2 separate regions of the Homo sapiens genome follow, and region 2 is linked to region 1. The links come from fine-mapping of genetic effects on plasma protein levels. Region 1 holds a variant in brackets. A gene starts in the other region. All regions are shown on their reverse strands. Region 1 overlaps MCTP2 (multiple C2 and transmembrane domain containing 2). Region 2 holds the start of CD5L (CD5 molecule like).

The links. PIP is the chance, under the fine-mapping model, that this variant and not a neighbour inherited with it causes the effect. Protein levels are from antibody-based Olink assays in UK Biobank. Linkage for the fine-mapping came from a reference panel and not from the study's own genotypes, which makes the PIPs less certain.
Region 2: it holds the start of CD5L, and the variant in region 1 is fine-mapped to the plasma level of the CD5L protein (UK Biobank, PIP above 0.99).

What each region holds. Positions count from the first base shown.
Region 1 is chr15:94,257,608-94,260,531 of GRCh38, reverse strand. The region is part of intron 1 of MCTP2 (multiple C2 and transmembrane domain containing 2); the gene reads right to left. Among named protein-coding and RNA genes, the nearest start is that of MCTP2, 28 kb to the right of the region's middle. The variant G/T (reference allele first, on the strand shown) is at 1,216.
Region 2 is chr1:157,840,326-157,843,249 of GRCh38, reverse strand. CD5L (CD5 molecule like) reads left to right here and starts at 1,442. Exons shown (of 6, transcript NM_005894.3): 1 at 1,442-1,576. The coding sequence starts at 1,549.

The sequences.
Region 1 (2,924 bases):
AGTCCTTAATATGGTGTTGGAAGCCCCATTTACTGTCTGCCCACAACCTGTATTCCCAACCACTCTGTGGCCCATGAGAGAAGACGAGAGGGCAGAAAGAAGAAGAGAGTTGGCACTGTCACTCTGGAAAGAATGCCAGCCTATCAATGAAGGCTGCACCCTCCAATCATGAGATGATGCCAAAGCTGAACAAGAAAGTTGAGTGGGCTGGACTCAGGGGGTAGACTGCAGCCTGGAAAGGAATGCTAAAGAGATGGCAGAGCCTCTGAATGCACCATGGCAAGCCCACTGGATCCTGAGTCGGGGAGGAATTTTCGCATACCCTTATTGCCCCTGAGGAACAGGAGAAGTTTCCGTGGCCAGAATCCCCAGGAAAGGCACTCAAGGTTCCTTGGGTAGAGAAAACAGAAGTGAGAAGACAACATGAGAGGTACAGGTGGAGCCTTTTCATATATTCCAGAGATAAAGCAAATGACCTCACTGGTGAACAGCCAAAGGGGAAGAGAAAGTGGTTGAAGGAGATTAAGAACAGGGCAGAGATCAGAAGGTTCCTTACCCAATGTATGATCTGGAAAGGACAATTACATGGTGATGTGGAGGGCATTCAGTGCACAAGGGTGAGACTAAGCCATCTGCTATTCCTGTCCAAACAATAACAATAGTTTACAAATGACTGAATCAGGACAGGCGCACTCTTCCCTACAGTAGAGACCTGGGGAAGCCTTTACAAGCGATCATGTCCATCAAAAAGCAGTATCCTTCACCAAATGATCATACAGCAATAACCTGAACAAAAGGGCAACAAGCTTCAAAGTAGAAATAATCATCACAGAGGTTAAACCAACCTTGGGCCAGGTTTGTTTTTGGAGTTCAGAAATTTAAGAATTTAGAGAGTGTATCATATATTACACAATACCCTAAATGGTTTGGAGACAGTATTTCATCATCAAACATATCACAATTCAAACTTAATGGGATATATAACTACTACATAGAACAGAAATAGTTACACAAGAGTCCAAGTCAGAGTTTGCTACCAAACCCTGGTAAGGATTCTTACAAACAAAATCCTTTCCATTTGCAAAAGTTTCTGAATTGTGAATTTTTAGATAAAAGATTTATGAACTAGCAGTTAACAGCTGCAGTAACAGAACAGCAGCAGAAATAGGAGGAGAACATCAATTTCCCCTTCCTGATCACCACTCTGCCCCAGGT[G/T]CCAGGCTGTGCACTGTAGCATGTTCTCTTTAAAGGTGAAGAATTTGGAGTTCGATGAGCTTTATTCAGGACCTTTAGCAAACTTTTCTTCCCTTAGCCTCCCTAGGCAGAGTATGAGTACTAATGGTGTGTTTTTATTCAGGTCCTGCAATCCCATGACCTGGACTAGGCTGGGTGGGGTGAAGGGGGTCCCCAGAGTGAACTGAGTGAGCATGGCCCAGGGAGAGTCCAGCATAGCCACAGAGTGTAGGAAGAAAATATTGGAACTTCCATTCACACTGACTTAATGTGTTCTTTTAATCTCTATTTTAGTGTATGCTGAATAATGTATATATATTATCAGCACCATAGTACATGTACATAATTTATAAGTAAATATGTAAACTTATATATTGGGTGTGTCTGCTCAAAAAGTACCTGCTTGATAGGGCGTATGATCAAAAGAATATGCAGAGAACAGTTCTAGAGCATCTGAATAATTAAATCCTTTAACCTGTTGGAAAACAAATAACAAAACTGCAATACCAGGAAAAGAATTTGTTTTCTCCCTTTAGGCAATAACTATTTTCAGAACTGTATCTCTCCTTTTAGAAAGAAGAATCAGGTAATGAACATAATGCAAACCAGACAAGATGAAATAGACAAGATTTTTTTGGTTTTTTGGTTTTTAGTTTTTTAAGGCAAGCGTGATTTAAATAGGGTTTTCGGTAACTACCATTGTCACCTCTACTAAATGGTGTTTCTCTTGGGAAAATTCATTAACTATTAATTTCAATAAAGGATCTCATCTGTCTCAAGTCACTCTTACATTTACAAACTACACCATGCATGCACCACTTCCTTTTTACTTACTCTGGCACATTCAAATAATTTGCATTTTCAGAAGTAGACACAGATGCTTTTTTGTGGACCCAGGTGATGGGGCAGAGGCAGGATAAAAAGATTTGCATGTCCTTTGAGAGAGGAGTCACTCATAATTAGAAAAGAAATTCAAACTCACAATATAGAAATAAATCTGTTTACCATAACCTGGGCTTAGAGAAATCTGGATAACTGAAGCATTCATTTAGTTGTGACATTATTAAGTAACCAAGGAATTAGAAACCCTCCTGGGATTTGAGCACATAAATGTTCAATATGTGGCCAGGCACAGTGGCTCACACCTGTAATCCCAGCACTTTGGGAGGACGAGACAGGCAGGTTACTTGAGGTCAGGGGTTCGAGACCAGCCTGGCCTACATGGTAAAACCTCATCTCTACTAAAAAAAAAAAAAAAAAAAAATGACATGGTGGCAGGTGCTGTACTCAGGAGGCTGACACAAGAGAATTGCTTGAACTCAGGAGATGGAGGTTGCAGTGAGCCCTGAGAAGATCGCACCACTGCACCCCAGCCTGGGCGGCAGAGCATGATTCCATCTTAAAAAAGAAAATGGGCCAGGCACGGTGGCTCACGCCTGTAATCCTGACACTTTGGGAGGCCGAGGAGGGCAGATCACAAGGTTAAGAGTTCAAGACCAGCCTGGCCAACATGGTAAAACCCCGTCTCTACTAAAAATACAAAAATTAGCTGGGCATGGTGGCACACACCTGTAATCCCAGCTACTCAGGAAGCTGAGGCAGGAGAATCGCTCGAACCTAGGAGGCAGAGACTGCATTGGGCCGAGATCATGCCGCTGCACTCCAGCCTGGGTGACAGAGCAAGACTCCGT
Region 2 (2,924 bases), not on the chromosome of region 1:
AACTACCTGTGGTTCCTTGAATAAGTAATGCTGTTTCACTTGTCTGCATATGCATAGCAAAATCTTTTCCTATTCTGATTCTCCACTTAACTCATCCTAAACCCCTGCTCAAGTATCATCATTGCTGTGAAGTCTTCTCTGATTAGCTCCAAACATAGTAACCATTTCCTCCAAGGTTTCATTTCTTTTTCTTATTTTAGAGATGTGATCTCACTCTGTCACTCAGGCTGAGGTTCAGTGGCCTGATCATAGTTCACTGCAGCCTCAAACTCCTGGGCTCAAGCTATCCTCCCAGTTCGGCCTCCCAAAGTGCTGGGATTACAGATATGAGCCACCTCGCCTGGCCTCCAAAGTTTGTTATACTTTTCTCTCTTAACAGTGGTTTCCACATGTTATTGCAATTACTAGACCATATATTTTTACAGTGCAAAACTATCCCTTGTTCCTTCATGTACTGCCTCCACCCATCACATTGCCTGGCATTCATGAGTGCTAAAAACTTTTCATTGAATACAATACTAAGTAAATGAAGAAATGTGGGATTAAAAATGAATGCCTACAATGAACCAAGCTTTCTGCTGAGTTACCTGAATATTACAAAGAAGCAAAAATTATTACTGTAGAGGAACAATTACCCTGCTTGGAATGCAGAGATTATGTCAGCATACAAAATTGATTGCTTGATCAATCTGGAGTAGAATAGCTCATGAAGCATAGCTATACTTAATAATATAGCAAAGCAGAGGGGCCTGAGAGGGTCTTACTGCTTAATCTCTGTCCATCATGTCTTAGACCTACAGACAACTTGAGTTCAATGATTATGATGCCCCTCACCTCAGGGATCTGTTTCCATCCAGCTTCCAAAGATGGGCATACACCAGCACAAGCATAGAAAAATAACAAATCTGTATATTGGACCCTCTGCTTAGCAGTGAGAAAGCAGGTTTGAAGACAATAAAGCCAGGCCTGTATGTGGAGATTGGCACCATGACCCTGGATTATGTTTTATGGGATATGCCTCCAAGGGCAACTCTGCATTTATCCCATGGCCTCTGGCTTCCAAATTTTCTAGGCACTTCCCTCTGGGGTAAAGGAATCAAAATTGGCTTATTTCCCTTGCAAACCATCCTTGGCGACTAAGTACTGCCTTGTCTTCTACTGAGAGATGGCCATATTTTTGGCACCTGCCTTTCCTTGTGGGAGGTGTTTCCTCTGTTTACATAGCAAAGGGGCTGTAGGAGAGACAGACGGAGCTGGACTTACAGCAGAACCAAGTCATGATAGCCTGTTTCTATTTTGTTTTCAGCATTTTTCCGCCAGTTCTGGCCACCTCCTTTCCTCTGGAACATGCTGATTTCAGCAAGTCCAGCTCTGTCAGCTCTGCCCCCCGAGTCTATTGGTTTCTGATCATCTGATAATGCTTTGCCTGCACTCAGGACCTGTCTTTGTCCCTCCTCTTAACATACTTGCAGCTAAAACTAAATATTGCTGCTTGGGGACCTCCTTCTAGCCTTAAATTTCAGCTCATCACCTTCACCTGCCTTGGTCATGGCTCTGCTATTCTCCTTGATCCTTGGTGAGTATCTCTGCACCTGTTGGTTTAGGCTTCAGAGTTTTCTGGCACTTTGATTAGGAGAACTTTCTCCCCGCCAACCTGGAACAGATTTAGATGTTTTTCAAGGATGAGCTTCTTCCTCCTTTTTACATTTGGTAACTATTCTAATCCTTAAAAAGCCGCTTAATCCATACACATTTGTAATTCACTTTAACAGATTTTTTTCTATTTTCTTATATTTGTAATGACAGAGTCATGATAGTTTATCCCATTTCTCTTTTTACATAAGTGTTCCTAAATGTACTATTAGTAAGAAGACAAATGAATGGGCACCGGGCAGCAGCAAGTAGAGCCAGGAAAGGAAGTAGAACTGCAAGACAATCACCTTTCATTGATCATATTGTCTGGTTTCCTCTGAAAAGTGTTTCATATAATGTTTTTCTAGTTTTCTTCAGTTTCTCATTGCTTAGAGTAATCTAGAGATTAACCTAGTTAATCTGGTGATTGTGGAGCCAAGGAGACCTGGATTTCAATCCTGCCGTTTTGATTTCTTAGCGGTGTGAATTCGTAGGTTACCATACCTCTCTGAAATTTTGCTCTCTCATCTATGAAGTGAGGATAATATTATGTTCCTCAGAGGTTTTTAGGAGTATTTTTTTTTATAAGATAACTAATATAAAGCATCTAACAATGCCTGGTAAATCCCTATGCTAATCAATCACATCCACTTTTATGTCTTGATGATCTAGTACATCACCAAAGCCCACACAATCCTCTCAACTGGACACTTTTGTGTTCAATGTAAGGTACTGACCACATCTTAAACATCCATGCATCCCCCACATCACTCAACGGCTAGTCCTGCCCCTCATGGATATACTACTGGGTCTTCCAGGCTCATGTGCACTTCCACCTGCTTCATGAAGCCTTTCTGGCCTGTGCCTTCTGCAGTTACCCACCCTACTGCAGAGCTTCCAAGTCACTTACTGGCTATATCACGTTTGCACCTGCATATCAGGCTTGCCATGCTCACTTTCCTTCACATGTACACATGTTGGGTTGGGGTTATGCAATGATTCCCATATGTATAATATAACCTTGAGTTTTGGATAGTTGCAGAAAAGGCCTCATTGAGCCTGAGAGTGGCCACATTCTGAAGATTAAGGGAATGAGGGTAATGAGAGGTTATTTGGAAACCAAGAAAAGAAAATATTCCAGGATAAACCACTGAACTACTTGAATCTGCCTGAAAAACTGTAGGCTGGAGGTCCAAAGATATTTGCACCTTCTGAAAAATCCTATAAGATGGGGGTGGTGGGTGTTTTGCAGTTGAAAATGCATAGGCCTCAGGGACTCCTGGAGGTTACAG